Linked DNA regions of Homo sapiens: all the other regions are reported to be linked to region 2. The links are microRNA targets in miRTarBase. Many come from high-throughput screens and were not tested one by one. Region 2 holds a microRNA gene; each other region holds the end of a gene's coding sequence.

Region 1 (6,136 bases), not on the chromosome of region 2:
AGCCAACTAGGGCTCCATTGCTTCTGTGTCAGAAAGTTCTTGAAAACTTGCAGTGGTTGGGAGTGGTTCTTAGGAAATCAAAGTCAGTGCTGTCCTTACCCAGAACCCTCACAGTCTGCTCTGTGTCTCTGCAGCTCAGGAGGCAGAAAGGGTCACCTTAATTCAGATGACACATTTTCTGGAAGTGAACCCCCAAGCAGACCAGCTGCCCCATGTGGAAAGAAAGATGCTCCAGGATGACTCTCTTCCTGCTGGGGCCAGCCTGACTGCCCCAGAGAGAAATCCAGGACCCTGAGGGACAGAGAGATGAACTGCTCAGTTACCATGGGAGAAGGACCAAGATCAAAGGCCTTCAGGACCCCAGCCTCTTTCCATCATCCTTCCTCCACCTGTGGGAAGAGAAGCTGATGCAGCCGGTGCTCCACCCATGGAAGAAAGGCTGGCTGTCCTTGGGCCCAAGAAAGTCAAGCATTATCCACGTCCAAAGGTGACAAGATGACTCAAAGGAGACTTCAAGAACAGTGTATGAAACACTGGAAGAGGTCACCTAGGAAAAGCATGAAATTTCCATTCCTGAATGTTTGAAAATAGAAGAGGCTTCCAATCAGTGTGGAAAGTGACAAATCCCCTATCAACACTCCCAGCCCTTGCTGGGGGCTCCTTTTCTGACTACTGTTAGCACTCAGCCTCCCATTCACATGTATTATATTTAAGTGTACCAGCCTTGCCTTCTCAAGTAGATTCTAAGCTCCTTTAAGGCAGTAATTGCATTTTATCTGTCTCATGATGCCCCCAGAGAACTTCCAACTCAGTAGGACCCCAATAAATACCTGTGTCTGATTGACTTGGGGGCTCAGTGGCCTCTAGGCACCCTTCCTCTGCAAGAACTCTGGGTCCCCCTGGGCTTCTGCCCCTCCTTTTGGGAGTCCCCTAGATGACCCCACAGGCAGCTGGTTTCTCCGCTGAGATCAAAAGGGCAAACACCCATTCCTCACATCATCCCGCCCCATTTGGACCCAGGCTTATTGTGCCGTAGACCTTTTGACCCGGCCAAGATTTTCTGGGATTTTCCTACATTCATGGAGGAGCAGGGTATTTTCAGTAGATTCTTGCTTTCTTCATAAAGGCCCTCTTGTTCAGCTGCTTATAAATCCTCGATATGGAGGACTGTTGGTGAAGCTGGAAAATGGTTTTTGGGGGTGAGGTGGGAGACAAAAGAGAGGAATTTTATGTGGATTCTGCCCTGTAACTACATCACCTCATGCTTGTCAGGGAACTTTCGCTCCACCCTAGGCCCCACTGCCTTTCCAGGAATCACATCCACTATTTTCTTTTGCCAGATCCGCTGGCAAACTGTCTGGGCTCCATTGTTGGATGGAACAGCCTGAGCGGTGGAGGCAGAAAGGAAAAATAGGCACCAATATCGAGTTGAGAATTGCCAGGTAGACATTTCCAGAAGGCTTAGTCCTGCCTTCTAAGCTGTCAGCAGCACAGAAATCCTTCAGTAATACCCCCTTATATCTGGTTCTGAACACAGACACTGTACAAAGAAAATCAAGGAGATGCCGGTTTTATGGCTTATAAGAGAAACCTGTTGTTTTGGATAAGTAGGAAAATTGCACACATCTAACCACATGGAATCGCAGAATTTCAGAGCTAACAGATCTTTAGAGATTAGTCTAATATCCTCATTCTAGAAGAGAGGGACTTGAGGCCCAACAGGGTTAAGGGTACAGGTGGGGGGCGCTTGTTTAAAGTCACCCAGTTAACCCAGTTAGTTATAGCACTGTGAGGACTAGCAAAGAGAACTCGTGACCTTGGTTCAGGGCCTTTTTCACTTCACCATTGCTGAGCATTGTACCAAAGCAAAACTCACTGTCAAAAATCAAGGATACCACAGTCGTCCCTCGAGACTATTTTCCTGTTCGCTTTCTCAATGACCTGCCCCAAATAATCCTGTAACGGAGATAGGACAGACATCATGGATCCTATTCAACCAATGAGGGAGCAGGCTCTGCAAGGTGTGTACTTCAGCAAAGGCCACTCGGAGCAGCCCACCTCCACAGCTATGTTCTGGATCGCCGTGCCCCTTGCTTGGATTTATGATCTAGGTATCTGGTCAGGTCCTTTCCTGTGTAAAGCTCTAAAGGCTCACTTCTTTCTCTCTCTCTCTCTTAGGCTTGTGCATGGAAGGTTTCATGATCATTCCCAGGAATTGGTTCTCATTTGTGGCAGGGATGGGCCCAGCACCCAGACTGTTTCTAATGCTAGATTCTCAGGATGTGAAAAGGTGTTCTGAGGAAAAGGAGGTTTGGTAGATTAATGAAGTTTTGGAAATGCTGGGAAACCACAAACATTCTTCTATGCAGGATCTTTTGGAGCCTTTGCTATATGGAGGTGTATTGTGAAACACCCTGGGTTTTCACACCTCGGGATGGGGACATAATGTGTGTTTCCCAGATGTGTTGGATTATTGTGTTTGATTGAAGCAGTCCCAAGGGGCTGGAGTTCCTCACATCACTGTTTGGGGAAGCCTGATGCACTAAACCCGGGGTTGGCCAACTCTTCAGTAAAGGGCCACATGGTAAACATTTTAGGCTTTGCAGGCCATACAGTCTCTATGGCAACTACTCAGTTCTGCCGTTGCAGCACAAAAGCAGCCAGGCAATCGAGAAACAAATGACCGCAGCTGTGTTCCAACAAAACTTTATTTCCCAAAACAGGAGGGAGGCTGGATTTGGCCCTTGAGCCAGAATCTGCCAGTCCCTGGACTAAGCCATGAAATTGTACAGGACTCTTTTGTTCCCACTCGGATCTGGAGATCAGATCCTATTCTTCCTCAAGGGCTTCCCTGACCACCTTTCTCCAGGACCTCTCCTTCCTCCAAACGGCTCTAATACTTTCATTGTGGAATTCAGCAGCTAGAATGTTCTGTCTGACTACCCCATCTTGGGGGAAGAAGGGGAGGGAGGAGACAACCAGCCCAGCAAGAGTGTTGGCCACGTGGCTAGAGCCAGGAGCGTTTCTAGCAGGGAGGCCGTTATAGGGAAAGTTAAGCTCCACCAGAGGTGGAGCTGGTAAGAGTTCAAAAGGCCAGGGCAGGGCCAGATTAGAGTCCCAGGGCCAAGAGTTTGGAGGGGGCAGAGATAAGATCTGAGTAAGAACTTTCAGGGAGAGAAGCGGGGAAGCCCCAAGTGTTCACAGCTCTCCTTTATGGGCTAACTGATCCATGGAGTAGTCAGGAGGGTTGATTTAAAGGGCCAGAGGCCAAACTGGCAGAGGAGGCCACCTCCACCACTTGGTATTGTCAGTGCTGTTGTTTTTCATCTTATACCTCCGGCTAGCATGATGCCTATACCACTGAGATGAGGGGCAGGCAAACATCTATCCCTAGGCCAGAATCAGGGAAGCCTCCCTGGGGATTTCTAACTTAGGATTAGAATCTAATCGAGGATGCAGGGAGACCATTGATTTTCACAAGATCAAGCAGATTCTCAGGTTCGGGTGCATTTCTGCAGTTCACTTTACACTGTTACTTACTAACGCTGCTACTGCTTGTTAACGTGTTTCTGCACAGCAGGCACTATCCTAGGTGTTTTCACATTGTGTATCACAGTTACGGTAACATTTCTGTAAGGTAGGTGTGATCATTCCCATTTCATAGATGGGAAATCTGAGGACCAGAGAAGTTAAGTTACACTACTCAGGAAAGGGCACACTGGGACTTCATGCAAAGCACCTCACCTCCACAGCTGCATTCTCGATCTTTGTGTCCCCTGCCTTCCCCCTTGCTTGGATGTATAGTCTGAGTATCTGGTCAGGTCCCTTCCTGTGTAAAGCTCTAAAGGTTTGCTTCTTTCTTTCTTTCTCTCTCTCTCTCTCTCTCTCTCCCTCTCTCTGTCTTTCTCTCTCTCTTTTTCTTAGGCTCGTGCATGGAAGGTTTCATAATCATTTCCAGGAATTGGTTCTCTTTAGTCACCTAACTAGTTTATTACAACCCTGGCCTAATGAGGCATTAAAAAAAAAAGTTCAGAGAGCCGGAACTAGAGCTAAAAATTCAGGCACCAGCCCTGAGGTCCTTGCTGACATATGTATAAAAGGAGCTCAGATCTTTATTTGTGGGGATGTCCATCTGTCTCAGCTTACTCGGGGCAAATGCATGACTCTAAGCCAACTTTTGAGAGCTCTCTGCTAATACGTTGGAGGTTTCTTCCTCTCCTCCAATAGCCCACTGTGGTCTGAGACATAAAAAATCAGTTTAATAACAGCCTCAGTCAGGCCCTAGGGGAAGATACCTCCACAGAGAGACCCATAACGCACTGCAGCCAAGTAGACACAGGTTATTTGATTGTGCTCACCTGGTACAGATATCCCAGAGCTGAAAGCATGACTAATGTGGAATGGAGAATGGAGATTCTACTCAGAAAGAAACAAACCCTGCATTCAGGGTCCAGCACCACCAAGCTCTTCATTTTTCATACAGTGACACAGCTTGGTTTACAGGTGCTGGCCTTCCCGGGCCAGCCTGCTCCCTTCACTGTCAGCAGTATGATGAGCTGTCATCCTACTGCCTACTCTCTAAGGGGCCAGCTGAAACCCATGTGGGCAGCAGAGAAGCGGCAGCCTTAGGAGAGAACCCCATGCTGCACCTCTACAGGCATGTGGTGATCACCAGTGCCAATGCCCCTGGCCTGCAGACCACTGTTTGCCTCCTGGATGCATTGCATCAAAGACATTGATTGAAGCCAGGCACCGTGGCTCATGCCTGTAAACCCAGCACTGTGGGAGCGTGAGGCAGGAGGATCACTTGATGCCAGGCGCTTGAGACCAGCCTGGGCAACATAGTGAGACCTCATCTCTACAAACAACAACAACAAAAAGACACACATTTACTGAGTAGGATCTGAACTCTTCTATGTTCTGCCTCTGCCACCTCTGGCCTTGTTCCCACTGCTCACTTACTTGCTACCTCTATCCAGATCTACCAGTTCTGCTGTGAGCATAGAGGGTCAAACAAAGGCTACTTCTTTCCCTGAGTGGCAAACTTCTGGCTTCCTAACCTTGAGTACTTTAGAGAAGAGGAAGAAAGCTAGGACTACTGTGTCCAAAGGTGTTTTCAGAATGCTCTAATTTGTCTGAAGATACTGTGTTTCATTTCAGACAAGAGTTCAAGAAAAAGAATTCAGACTGTGGCTTCTTTAGGGCCTGGCATGGGAAGATCAGACTGATTAGCAAATGCAACTAATCTAAACATTTTATGGGGCCAGCACTTTCCTTCCCTACCTCTGCCAGTGGAGTACAGACAACTACAAATTAATTACAATATACATCACCAAAAAGAAACATACTCCCATTCTAGAGATGGGAACATTGAGGCTCAGATGAACACAGGCTGCAGGGGATTACAGGGGCTATTTTTCCAATCGCTGCCTGTCAGGCAAGCCTTGGGCCGAGAGCCAGGCTCAGACCAGGAACAAGGAAACAGCAAGTCTTCAGCAGGACCCCAGTGGCTTATGAGAGGGGCTGGGCCCAGTCACCTGACACTCCACCTATTGACTTTGGATGTCTACTCCAAAAATCTTCCTCCTTCCGCTTCTCCCTAGCCAGGGTGTGGAGGTAACAGCACATAGGACAATGGTTGGGTAACCTCAAAAAAGGTTTGCTCATATGTCCCTGCCTCTCAGAAACAGAGAATCAAAGCTCTTTGGAGTGTAGAGACTAGACCCAAAGAAGAATTGAGAGAGCTTTTGGACCATGGCTGACTTTCCATTTCCAGGGCCTTTTTCTTTCTTTTTTTTTTTTTAAATATTTTTTTTATTTATTTATTTTTGAGACAGACTCTCGCTCCCTCGTCCAGGCTGGAGTGCAGTGGCACAATCTTGGCTCACTGTAACCTCCACCTCCAGGGTTCAAGCAGTCCTCCTACCTCAGCCACCTGAGTAGCTGGGATTACAGGAGCACGCCAGCATGCGCGGTTAACTTTTGTATTTTTAGTAGAGTATTTTTCACAATGTTGGCCAGGCTGGTCTCGAACTCCTGGCCTCAAGTGATCGCCTCACTTGGCCTCCTGAAGTGCTGGGATTACAGGTGTGGGCCACCACACCCAGCCTCCAGGGCCTTTTATGTTCCACTTCAC
Region 2 (6,145 bases):
GAGTCAGCTGCACCTAGAGCTGAGGGCCCGGGGCAGACACGGATGTGTCAGTTCACTAGCCTGGGTACCCTAGCCAGGCCCCTCAGGGAGGGATGCCAGCCCCTTGGAAGAGACAGTGTGTGGGCTGACCTTTCTCCCAACACAGGGGAAGAAGAGTTCCTTGGCTGGTTACTACACCTACCCCAGCTCTTCCAGGCTGCCGCTGTTTCAGTTACCAAAAGAAGACCCCTAAGCCCAGCCAGCAGCTATTCCTCAATCACATGTCCCCCTCCTTCAGGACCATCCTGGCAAGACCCACTCCTTGGGACACGAATGATGTCTGGCCACACAGAATACATGTTTATGACTCAGACCGTCCAATTCCCTAACCAGCTATGTCCCACTGGTTCTCAACAGGGCCTCGTGGAGGCAGCCCCGACCTGGGGGAAGTGGCCTTGCTCTGGCTGGTATGTGCAGAATGCTTGTCCATGTAGACGTGCTTTATTTATGCCAAATCGTGCTTGGGGGCTTCGGGGGATCAGACTTGCTTCCTCAACAAGCTGTGACTGCAGGGGAGGGACTGGCTAATAGCAGACAATGGGTGTTATCTGGTCCACTCACTGATCCATTCGCCAGTAGGAGGAATGTCTAACTCTGCATGTGTGAGAAGTAGTGGTTTTCAAGTACAAGACTTTTTTGAACCAGTTCCAGCTTTAGAGAAGTGAGATTGGTGTAGGTTGTCCGTGTGTGGAATGTGAATGGAGGGTGGGACATGGAGCATACGCTTTGCTTGTGGAAAATGTCTCCTGGTCCTCAGAACTGAAGCCGTTTTAGCGGCACTTCCTGGAGTGATGGCACCCTTGCGAGATAGGGTTTGAGTCTGGGATTATTGGTCCTTCATTTTTTGCTATGGGAGGCATGTGTTGTCGCTATTTTAGTAAGCCTCTGCATCCACTCCACCCCAAAAATGATTTTTCTGGAAGCTGTGATCATTGTTTTTGGAGGGTGGTATTAGTGGTGGTGGTGGTGGTGGTGGTGGTGGTGGTGATGGTGGTGGTGGTGATGGTGGTGATGGTGGTATTGGTGGTGGTGGTGGTGGTGGTGGTACTGATGGTGGTGGTGGTGGTGGTGGTGGTGGTGGTGGTGGTGGTGGTGGTACTGATGGTGGTGGTGGTGGTGGTGTTGGTGGTGGTGGTGTTGGTGGTGTTGGTGGTGGTGGTTGTGATGGTGGTGGTACTGGTGGTGTTGGTGGTGGTGGTGTTGGTGGTGGTGGTGTTGGTGGTGGTGGTTGTGATGGTGGTGGTGGTGGTGGTATTGGTGGTATTGGTGGTGGTGGTGGTGGTGGTGGTACTGATGGTGGTGGTGGTGTTGGTGGTGGTGGTGTTGGTGGTGGTGGTGGTGGTGGTGGTGGTACTGGTGGTGGTGGTGGTGGTGGTGTTGGTGGTGGTGGTGTTGGTGGTGTTGGTGGTGGTGGTGGTGGTGGTGGTGGAGGGTGGTGGTGGTAGGGGCTGGTGAGCATCATGTTTTGCTACCTCTCTCAGTTGTATTTAAAGAGACATTGTTTTTGACCTGTTTGCCTATTCCTCAGTCTGTCACACCAACATGACCAGTCCTGCCGATTGAAACTTTCTGGACACAAGCTTCAGTCTCTGGAAGATTCTTGGGTGTCCTTCTCCCTCCAAGGTATGTGAAGGATGCTCCAGCCCACAGTTACATGACATTGGTCATTAGGTGCCTTGGGAGGGCTTCATGGAGGCGATGTGACTTTAGGAACCTGACAGGCTTATTTTCTTTTTGTTTTTGATATTTTTCGAATTCAAAGCATAGAATCCCTACTTTGCCTGCTTTACTTGTGGCAAATTTTTGATGTACATTCACTTTTTTTTTTTTTTTTTTTCAGAATTAAATGCTACTTTGGAAACGCTCTTGACCATGAAGCCTCCATTAGGGAAGAGACATTAGGGTTACCCCCACCCAGACGAGTGACAGCAGGGCAGACCCCAAACTTACGTTTGCCTGCATAGGAGTTCCATCTCTGGATGTGAAGAGGCCAGGGGTGGGCCCTGCGCTTCCCACGTGGGACTCGCAAAGTGCTCACCTGCTTCTGTTACCTTCTGTCTTTCATGAATCATGTTTGCGTTTGTGCTCTCCAGGGCTGTTCCCACTTTTCCCATCTAAAAGGTGGATGTTCCTTCTATGCTTACAGGATTTATGGTGAATCATAGAGGAAAATCCGCATTTTCAGTATCTAAGGCTGCTTTTAAAACATTTCTGAACATTTCTGAGAGGAAGGTTAGCTCCCTCCCCCATGCGGAGAGTGATGGAAGGTGAATCCCAGAACCTAAGCTCTTGTTAGCAAGGTCTGTCCTGGGACATGCGTCCTCCGCAGGGCCCATGTCACTGCCGCTAGCCCGGGAGGCCCCTGCCGACTGCACCTATCCTGTGCTGTCTTTAATTTTGATAGATTGTGCTTAGGTTCATGCTTTCCAGGACTCAATCCTTCTTTGGTATTTAAAAGGTGGATATTCCTTCTATGTTTATGTTATTTATGGTTAAACATAGAGGAAATTCCACGTTTTCAGTATCAAATGCTGCTTGGAAACATTCCTGGACTGAAACCACCATCAGGGAAGAGACAATAAAGTCCCCCCCCCCACTCCAGGGTAAGTGGAAAGTCGGTGGACCTCAGAACATGTGCTGAATTCGTGCCATATGTCTGCGGACCACCCACCCGCCTTGAGGAGACCCCTCTCGCAAGCTGCCCGCTCGGCCAAGCGGCTGGGCTCCGTCGTCATTTTCTCCATGAGGCCGAATGCTCTCCTCTGTGCTATGTTACTTTTGTGTTTGATGGATTGTACTTAGGTTCGTGCTTTCCGGGATGAAACCTTCTTTGGTATTTAAAAGGTAGATTTTCCTTCTATGGTTACGTGTTTGATGGTTAATCATAGAGGAAAATCCACGTTTTCAGTATCAAATGCTGCCTTGGGATCATGGCTGGACTGAAGCCACCATCAGGGACGTGAGGTGGGGCTGAGCCCTCCAGGGTAAGTGGAAAGATGGTGGGCCGCAGAACATGTGCTGAGTTCGTGCCATATGTCTGCTGACCATCACCTTTAGAAGCCCCCTTTCGCTGAGGAGCCAGCTTGGTGCACAGGCTGTGGTGTGTTGTCACAGCTATGCTACGGGACTGAAAACGGTTGCTTTACTGTCTTGCTTCCATTTTCCATGAACTGTGTTCAGATTTGTCCTTTCCAGAGCCCAGTCCTTCTTTGGTATTTAAAACGTGGATATTCCTTCTATGTTTACGTGATTCCTGGTTAATCATAGAGGAAAATCCATGTTTTCAGTATCAAATGCTGCTTTGGAAATGTTTCTGGAAGAGACCGTAGGGCCTGAGTAGGTGCAAAGATGGTAGGCCGCACGTCGTATCTGAATGAACGGGGTATGCCCGAGAACCATCTCGAGACGCCAACTTGGTGAAGATTAAATTGTGGGTCTCGTGGTGCCAGTTCTTCCCTGGAAGCTCGTCTGCCTCATGTGACTTTCTTTTCTGATGACTCAAGCACAGGTGCACGCTTTCCTGGATGGAATCCTTCTTTGGTATTTAAAAGGTAGATTCTCCTTCTATGAGTACATTATTTATGATTAATCATAGAGGAAAATCCACGTTTTCAGTATCAAATGCTGCTTTGAAAACCTCGGAGGACGTGAAGTCGCCATGGAAGAGGAGATGTTATCTGTACCCCTCCTGGGTACAGGACGGACAGACACAGAATTGTACTTTGTATGAAATACGCCGTCAGCTTCTCTGCTGTTTGCTCACTGCCCTTGGTGCACACATAATGTGTTGTTACAAGGCTGTGTTCTCAGTATTGCCTCATTGACCTTGAATGAAGTTTGTTCTCTGTATGTTTACCATGATTGCAATGCATTTTCTGGAATGAACCTCTTTTACTGTGACTAGTTGTACCTTAGAGAATACCTGAGTGGGCTGTCAATTTCAGGAAGGGGCACTGCTTCAGGGGCTATGGAAGGAATAGATGTGTGATTCACCCACGGGCCTGCACTTCACACCTCGGTGTGCTGCTCTCACCATGCAGATCCCATCTGTGTCTCTAAGGCTTGCTCCTGGAGCTGGTGGCAACTTAGTCACAGAGGAAATGGCCTTCCTGTCACTGCCATCATTTGCTACTTGAAGAGAGGTAATCCTTCACGCATTTGCTTTACTTGCAATGATTATACAAGGGCAGACTCTCTCTGGGGAGCAAATCCTGCCTGGGAAGCCTTCTTGGGAACAAGGCTGACTCCAGCAACCTGTTAGATGGCCAGGATAGCCCTGGGGTGTGGATGGTTGACCACAGGGCATGTGCCTCTGTCTTGCTGTTTGTGACCTGGTTCTCTGACCCTCCTCATCTCATGCTTCCTTCCAAGAACTTTCTGGAAGAGATGCTGGCTTTGGAGATGATATAGGGTTTTCTCTTCAGACCACCTGTTCTGCCTAGCAAAAAGGGCCTACCTTGGCCGGGCACGGTGGCTCACGCTTGTAACCCCAGCCCTTTGGGAGGCTGAGACGGTGGATGGCTTAAGCCCAGGAGTTCGAAACTAGCGTGGGCAACTTGGCGAAACCCCATCTCTGCAAAAAATACAAAAATTAGCTGGGTGTCATGGTGTGCGCCTGTGGTCCCAGTACTTAGGAGGTTGAGGCTGGAGGATCACTTGAGCCCGGGAGTTGGGAGGTTGTAGTGAGCCAAGATTGTGCCACTGCACTTCAGCCTGGCTGACAGAGACCCCTGTCTCAACACAATAGGTTAAAAAAAAAAGAAAAGAACAAAGGGCCTCCCTTGATGGGCCCTACTTATCACAAAGCATCCATGGGCTGCTACTCCGGCAGGTCTGCCCAGCATGATGCCAGCCTCTGAGAAGAGGTCTCGTGGTCAGTGCATCTCCCAGATACATGAAAGAATGACCGTCAGCAAAGTCAATGTCTAATGTAGATGTGGGTCATCTGGTCTACCCACTCTCCATACCTAGCCCATCCTTGGAGTGACTTTTGGACCTCACTGTCCACTTGAGGGAAGGCCAGTCCACAGGAAGGAGGCCCCAGAGCACCCAGTGTGGCTACAGGACTTGCTGCTGGGACCTCTAAGCCCCACTGCTCTCTTAGTCCATTGGTGTCCTTTAGGGATTCTTGCCAATGGAAAGACCCTTGGATTCCTGGTGTTAGCATGTGTTTATTCAGAGAGAGTTGGCCCATGAGAATCTCATTTTCCTTTGACGAATCTTGCCCTAGATGAATACTTCTGAGTAACAACTAACTGCTCAGATGGCTTTCTGAATACAATGCCAAATTCAGGAGAAGGGACACTTGTCATAGTGCTGCTTTGTGATTTGCAAACGGAGTGCGTTGGATTTCTGTTTCTCTTTTTTCTTTAATGATGCATGTGACTGCATCTTCTAACCTCCCTTAGCCAGTGTTCACCAGGAGGGCTTCCTGGAGGCAGTGGCTTTGGGCAGAGGCAGAGGTTCTTCTCCCAGGGTGTTTTTGCAGGCCCTAAAGGGATTTCAGCCATTTTACATTTACATTATTTCAAATGGTACAGGATTGCCTGTCTTTTGGTAACCAATCCTGTCGTGAAGAGATGCTGGGAAGTAAAGTCAACTGTATGGCAGGCCCCAGCTCCAGGGCCAGCCAGATGAGGCTTGTCACCTGGCCCCTCCCCCTTGGTCTCAGGCCTCGCAGGAGGAGATGTCCACTCCGGCGAAGACCCGGCATAGTCCTCACCTGCTCTTTGAGCCACTCTTTGGTACTTGAAGAGAGGATACCCTTTGTATGTTCACTTGATTAATGGCGAATATACAGGGGGAGACTCTTATTTGCGTATCAAACTCTGTCGAGGAAGACGCTCAGACCCTGCTGTCTCCAGGACAAAGCCTCGGATGTCAGCCCCTCTCAGGTACGGCTTGGCTTCCCTGTCTGGGAACGTGAGCTTGGCTGTGATCCTAGCCCTTGGGTTCTGCCTTCGCTCTCTGTGCTGGTTCTTCCTGTGGACTCCCTGGAGGCAGTGGGAGAGGAGGGTCCTTTTTGTGTGCACTGAGTTTAATGGTGGTTTGCTTTTTTTAAGGATAAATCACATGGATCTGCCTCTTCTCCATACCAAGTCATACC
Region 3 (5,951 bases), not on the chromosome of region 2:
CGAACTCCTGACCTCAGGTGATCCGCCCGCCTCAGTCTCACAAAGTGCTGCAATTACAGATGTGAGCCACTTGCACCCGGCTCATCTAAAAGTTTTTGATGTTAGAAGTGAAGTCAAATATTAGCTTTATTTTTTTTCCCAAATGGGGAGCCAGTTCTCTTATTGAATAACCTCTCACCCCACTCAAAAGCCATTTTTACCATCCGCAAAGGGAAGCAGCATACCTGGACTCAACTAGATTTGTTCCACTAATCTAGTTATCATTGAGCTAATACGAGTCCACCTTAGTAACTCTAACTTGGGAAAAAATGTTCACATCTGCTGGGACTGGTTCCAGCTCATTTTCTTTTCTTAATTTTTCTGGCTTCCTTTTTCTCCCCCTCCCTCCCCCTCCCCCACCAAAAAAAACAAACACCTTTAGAAATATGTTGTCAAGTTTCTAAAAATTCCTATTATTTTGACATAAATAACTTTGAATTTCTAGCATATGAAGGGAGAATCTTTACATGAATCTGACCAAGAATCATTTCTTTGAGTAATCCTTTATGTCCTCCATGAGAGTTTTGTAGTTTTCTTTTTAAAGGTCCTGTGTGTTCTTGTAAATTTGGTAGCTTGTATTTTACTACTTAAAAATTGTTTTTTCTTAAAAATTTTTGTGGGCACATAGCAGATGTACGTATTTATGGGGTACATGAGATGTCTCGATACAGGCATGCAATGTGAAATAAGCACATCATGGAGAATGGGGTATCCATCCCCTCAAGCATTTATCCTTGAATTACAAACAATCCAATTACACACATAAGTTATTTCTCACCGCTTTTAAAATTAGTGGTAGTAGTGGCATTGCAATTGTGAAAGAGATCTTTTTTCATTATTTTATAATTTTCTAATATGAATCATTACTGATTCATATTAATTTCTATATATTATATAATTAACCAGTTTTCTTAACTCATCAATAGTTTTTCTGTTTGTTCTCCTGCATATTCTAGGTTTTGAATAACATAATTGTAAATAATGATCCTTCAGCATGCTCCCTTCCAAATCTATGTGAAATTTAAACATTTAAAAGATGTATCTTATTACCAGGTCTTCATTAATTTTACACAGACATAATTAATATTATCAGTGAATAAACTTAGCTCTTTGGTTTAGGCCAGGAATTTTCTTTAATTATTACTTCTTTCATTATTCTGTGAAAGTTAGGGGGCATGCCTATAATTTAAAGGTTGTTTTTGCTTTTTGTTTGTTCTATCATATTATTTTCTTCATCTTTTTCTCTATACTTTTGGAGAGTTATGAAATTTGTTCACGTGACCAAGTTTTCTGTAATGTCAGTCATGCTCATTTGCACCTCCTCTGGGGATTTGCATTTGGGATTCCTTTTTGCATATTTCAGGATGCTCTCTCTTCATTCCTCCTCTGTCTCAATTTACTCTTTTTTGGCTAATGAAAATAAAAGATTATTAATCATTTAAACACGTGTTTGTGCAAGACAGAGTGCTAAGTACTACACAACCATTATCTCATTTAATTCTTACAATTCTGAGCTCCCTAAGCTCCAAATAATTAATTTGCCTAGGATTCCATAGCTTGTCAATAACAGTGCTAGGCTTTAAATCCAGTTTCTTTGCCTTCAGAACCCATGCTCTTGACAACTATACCAGAGATGTACTTGTGGCCTTCCTCCCTGCCCATAAGAGAGGTCAGTTTCTTCCAGATCAATATCTGGAGTGAGATAGCCTCTTCAATATTTTGCGTCAATTCCAGTGCCTGCTGGACTAAGGTACGGGCATCTTCTGCTCCAATTTTTACATTATCTGGCTTTGCTAGAGTCAGACAAATGTTGTTTGCACAAGTCTTGTATTTCTCCAGCAATTCCACTCTCAATCCATTTGCAAGATTTTCTCTGTGGTGACATCTGAGGGTGCAAAGTTCCACTTCCTCCTTAATCTATAGCTGTACTGAAAACTGAAACCTGTAGTCTCTAAAATGCATGTGAAAGCAAGGAGCTGAAGGATACTGTGGGGTGGACCTAGACCTCAATTCTAGCTAGTTCAGATGATTTCTGGTTAAAAAAAAAAAAAAAGTGTGTGTGTGTGTGTGTGTGTGTGTGTGTGTGTGCGGCGGGGGACTTGGTTTTCCAGGCAGTGTACCTCCTGTGTCCCAAGTTAGAGGCAGTGATTGAGTTGTGGCTTTTTCCTGCCTACTCTGTAGATAATTTGGTTCAACGAATCAAATGATTGACACTTATGTTAGAAATTCCCAGTGGATTTTGTCACATGGTTTTCTCTTCACTGTCTTGTACTACTGGAGTTTTGTGGGTATTTTTACATGAAGTTGGGAATGAATAAATCAGGGACTGCGATCTGTAGTTATATTTAGCACATTTAATGAACATCCATATCACATAATTTTGGGATCAGTATTAGACTCACTTTTAACGACACACATGGAGTGTCTCCATGTATGACTTAGGGGTCGACATAGACCAAAGTGAACTTACGTTTCTTTCTATAACATTTCCTAGGCCTTGTCCTGGGATGTAGGAAGTTCCCACAGTATAAGCCCTATGGATTAGCAAAATTGTCATATGACAATTTTTAAATGACTTTTTAAAGCACTGTACTAAAAAAATGAAAGCATTAGAAATGATTGAGCATTGAGCTGAGGTGTTTTTCTGTTTGCGAGATACGGTCAAGGAGGCGCAAAGAGGTAGGTCAAAGTGACCTGACAGGTTTTGCTGTTCTTGGAAATCGTGCAGAAAAAGAAAGCTCTTTATACCACAAATTGGGGAAGCCCCTTGGCACACATACAATTTCTTGTCTCAACAGGCGAGTTACGGACATTAAAAAAATGCTAGTTTTTTTTTTCCCCCTTTCAGAAGCATCCTATTTTTTACCTCTATGGTTAAAGCTACTATGGATGGAGACAGCTAACAAATGCATCAAATGTATGAAATGTGTGACTGCAAATCCCAAGCTACACTAAGTGCCCTTCCTCTGTGTCTGTCACCCTTGTGATGGTTAGTTTTGTGTCAACATAGTCAACATGTGCCACTTACATGTTTATACAAAATTATCAGTTGACTTTAAGGAGATGTCCCTCAATAATGCAGGTGGGCCTCATCCAATCAGTTGAAAGCCTTAAGAACAAAAACTAAGGTTTCACAGAGAAAGAATTCTGCAAGACTGCAACAATAGAAACTAGTTGTATTTCTAGCCTGCTGGCCTGCCCTACAGATTTTAACTTGCCAGTCCCCATAATTGCATGAGCAAATTCTTTCAAATGCATCTCTTAATATATTTTATTGCTTGTTTGTCTGGAGAACCCTGTATGACACTCCCTTATATTCTAAAATGTTTTACTTGGGTCTCATCCTTACTCAACTGTAAGCTCAAGGATATGCACTCTGTCTTATATATCTCTGTATTTTCAAAATCCAACAGGGTGCTTTCTCAGACTCTAGGTACTCAATAAATACTTGTTGAACTAATGGATGCACAGAATAATCTGTTAGAGAAGCCAGAGGTACAGTGAGCAAGGAAAGCCAGAGGCCTGGAAAGTTAAATTTATGGTTTTATATCGACAGCCCACAAAAAAGTCAGCTGAATTTGAATCTCCTAGTCATGTGACCTTTGGTATGTTGATTCACCTTTTTGGGCTCAGGGTGCTGACCAATTTGGTCTCTAATACATTACATGACTAGGTCACACAAGTCAAAGCAACCAGGAACAGAAATCCAAAAGACTGAGTTAAACAATGTTTGTTTATTATACAGGTTATTCTCTACTTTTCATCAAGAATGGGCACTGAAGACTATGTAGTAGCCCTAAGGCCACAGGCACCAACCAAGTAGTGAATGCAGTTGGCTGAAAGTTGGGACAAGACTAAAACCACAGAGATTTATGCAGAGAACATACCCAGTGCTACATCATAAATATGGTAGTTAATGCACACAGTTTGGCTAGTTTTGGCTTCAAAATTAATTAAACTGTATCAATGTATTTTGAAGTGTTAAGTCATCTGTATGCTTTAGCTCCTTCTATAGATGAGGCAAATATACAAACAGATTAAACTGACTTTTACAGAATAATTATTCTTTTACCTTGTTTACATGGAAAGGAATCCTCCATTTTAGGATGCACATAAAATGCCAGCCTATGTTGATGACATTGCCTTAACACTTTTTTTTTAAGTAATTTTACAGGGTAGTTAACCTGTAAAAGAAACAGTGGATAAACTTGAAAATGCTAATAGCAAAAAACACTTCAGCCATGGCACATACAACCAGAAGCCAATGATATCCTTCAACTATAGAAATTAGCGGTGTTTTCTGTTTATTCCTGAAGCAGGATTCCATATTCAAGCCAGAAATTGTCATTCAACAGAAAAAATCAGGTCAAAACAATCAATCACATAATGTAGCAAGACAAAAGTATGTGCTTATGTGAAGAAAAACAAAAACAACAAATAACCGAACTTTTATTTTCTTGAATATAATATTGATGGCAAGATTGCTAAGAGGTCATCCCTGTATTTAGTTTAGATAAAGGCTTCCAGCATAGAACACTGTTAAGAAGTAACTGTCAGGAGCTATGCAGAAGTGATGAGAGGCAAATAATATAAAAACTAGAAAAGCAGGTTTTAATTTTCTATAGACTTTATTACACATTATTATGTTACGAGACAAATGCAGATAATTCTTAATTTATCAAATTTGTGAGCTTAATTAACAAAAATATTTGACCCTCACCAGAAAAACAGATAACTCTAAATCTACTCTGAAAATCTAATCAATTGCGAAGTATTACCTATTTGGAGACTATGTATTATATCAAAGATAAAGCTACTATTCTCACAGAACATATGGGGTCATTGGCAGCCAACCAATAATGAAGTAAATATTCTAATATTTGGGAAAATACTGAGAAAACTAATAAATTGTCCTGGATATTATTTATTCTTGCCTTTACAAAAGACTTACACATCCAAATGAGATTAGTTTAGAATAGAGGTTTTTAGTTCAGAAAATGTTCAAAGTCCAATACAGTCATGGCTAATCAGAGACTAGAGAACCTTTATAAAGGTAAGTAGGCTTGAAAACCCTTGGAAACTGAGCAGTCTTATTTTGAACTAGCATGTTTTAATCAAAGGTATGGAATTAATCAAATATCAATTAAGAATTACTGGAATGCACACTCATGCCAAATGACAACTAACATGTTATTTCCTACTATGATGACTCTTTGATTTGAGACAGATGGCATAAAAAAATATTGCTAGCTATACAATAAATTTTACTCTTCTGCTTCTGCTCTCTAAAGAAAAATCTTATTTTTTCACATAAGAAGCTCATGGAATCGAATGTTAATTAAAGAAAAGATAGGGTAAGTACAACTGGGGGAAAGACAGTACCTCTAATTACATAGGAAATCCATGAAAGAATTAATCATCATAAGAGAAGAATCATTTTTCCAGTAGCCCCACTACCATGAATGATATTTTCATGAGCCTCGGCCACCTTCTCCAATGGATATTGAGAACCTATCACAGGTTTCAACCAGCCAATTTCCATTCCAGCTTGAAGGGCTGCTGCATATTGCTGAAATTCCTCCTAAGAAAAGGAAAAACAAATTTCTTTTTGTAGTGAACCGTATGATTTAATTTTCAGAAGCATTAAAAACACTTCAGAATCTAAGTGTTATACCATGAAGAGTCTCTTACAAATGTGTGACTTTTGTCAACTTGTCCAGAACTATAGAAAAAGTAGTTATCTACAGGGTAACCATAAATCCCATCTGCCTGAGACAGTGTTAGTGTACAAAATACCTGTTGTCCTGAAATTATTACTAGTATCACATTTCTATCTCAAAAGGTATGCTTACCTGGATATAAATTATACTGTCACCCTAGTTGTCCTTCTGGTGACTAATCCTTACCAACTC

The links. The annotated mature microRNA hsa-miR-376c-5p reads GGUGGAUAUUCCUUCUAUGUU and lies in region 2 at 2,497-2,517, shown strand. An mRNA with a match to its seed (bases 2 to 7 or 8) in the 3' UTR can be bound and repressed. Matches are read on the target gene's strand: a 7mer-m8 pairs with bases 2 to 8, a 7mer-A1 pairs with bases 2 to 7 and ends in A, and an 8mer does both.
Region 1: miRTarBase lists FCAMR as a target of hsa-miR-376c-5p. Seed matches in the 3' UTR shown: 7mer-m8 at 473-479.
Region 3: miRTarBase lists CRYZ as a target of hsa-miR-376c-5p. The part of its 3' UTR that is shown has no 7-base or 8-base seed match.

What each region holds. Positions count from the first base shown.
Region 1 is chr1:206,952,675-206,958,810 of GRCh38, reverse strand. FCAMR (Fc alpha and mu receptor) reads left to right here. Exons shown (of 8, transcript NM_001170631.2): 8 at 135-844. The coding sequence ends at 295. Among named protein-coding and RNA genes, the nearest start is that of PIGR, 9.3 kb to the right of the region's middle.
Region 2 is chr14:101,037,198-101,043,342 of GRCh38, forward strand. MIR376C (microRNA 376c) reads left to right here and starts at 2,493; the gene lies at 2,493-2,558. MIR376A2 (microRNA 376a-2) reads left to right here and starts at 2,872; the gene lies at 2,872-2,951. It overlaps MIR654 (microRNA 654), which reads left to right and starts at 3,022; the gene lies at 3,022-3,102. MIR376B (microRNA 376b) reads left to right here and starts at 3,239; the gene lies at 3,239-3,338. It also overlaps MIR376A1, MIR300 and MIR1185-1.
Region 3 is chr1:74,700,838-74,706,788 of GRCh38, forward strand. It overlaps CRYZ (crystallin zeta), which reads right to left. Exons shown (of 9, transcript NM_001889.4): 9 at 4,649-5,620. The coding sequence ends at 5,459. Among named protein-coding and RNA genes, the nearest start is that of CRYZ, 29 kb to the right of the region's middle.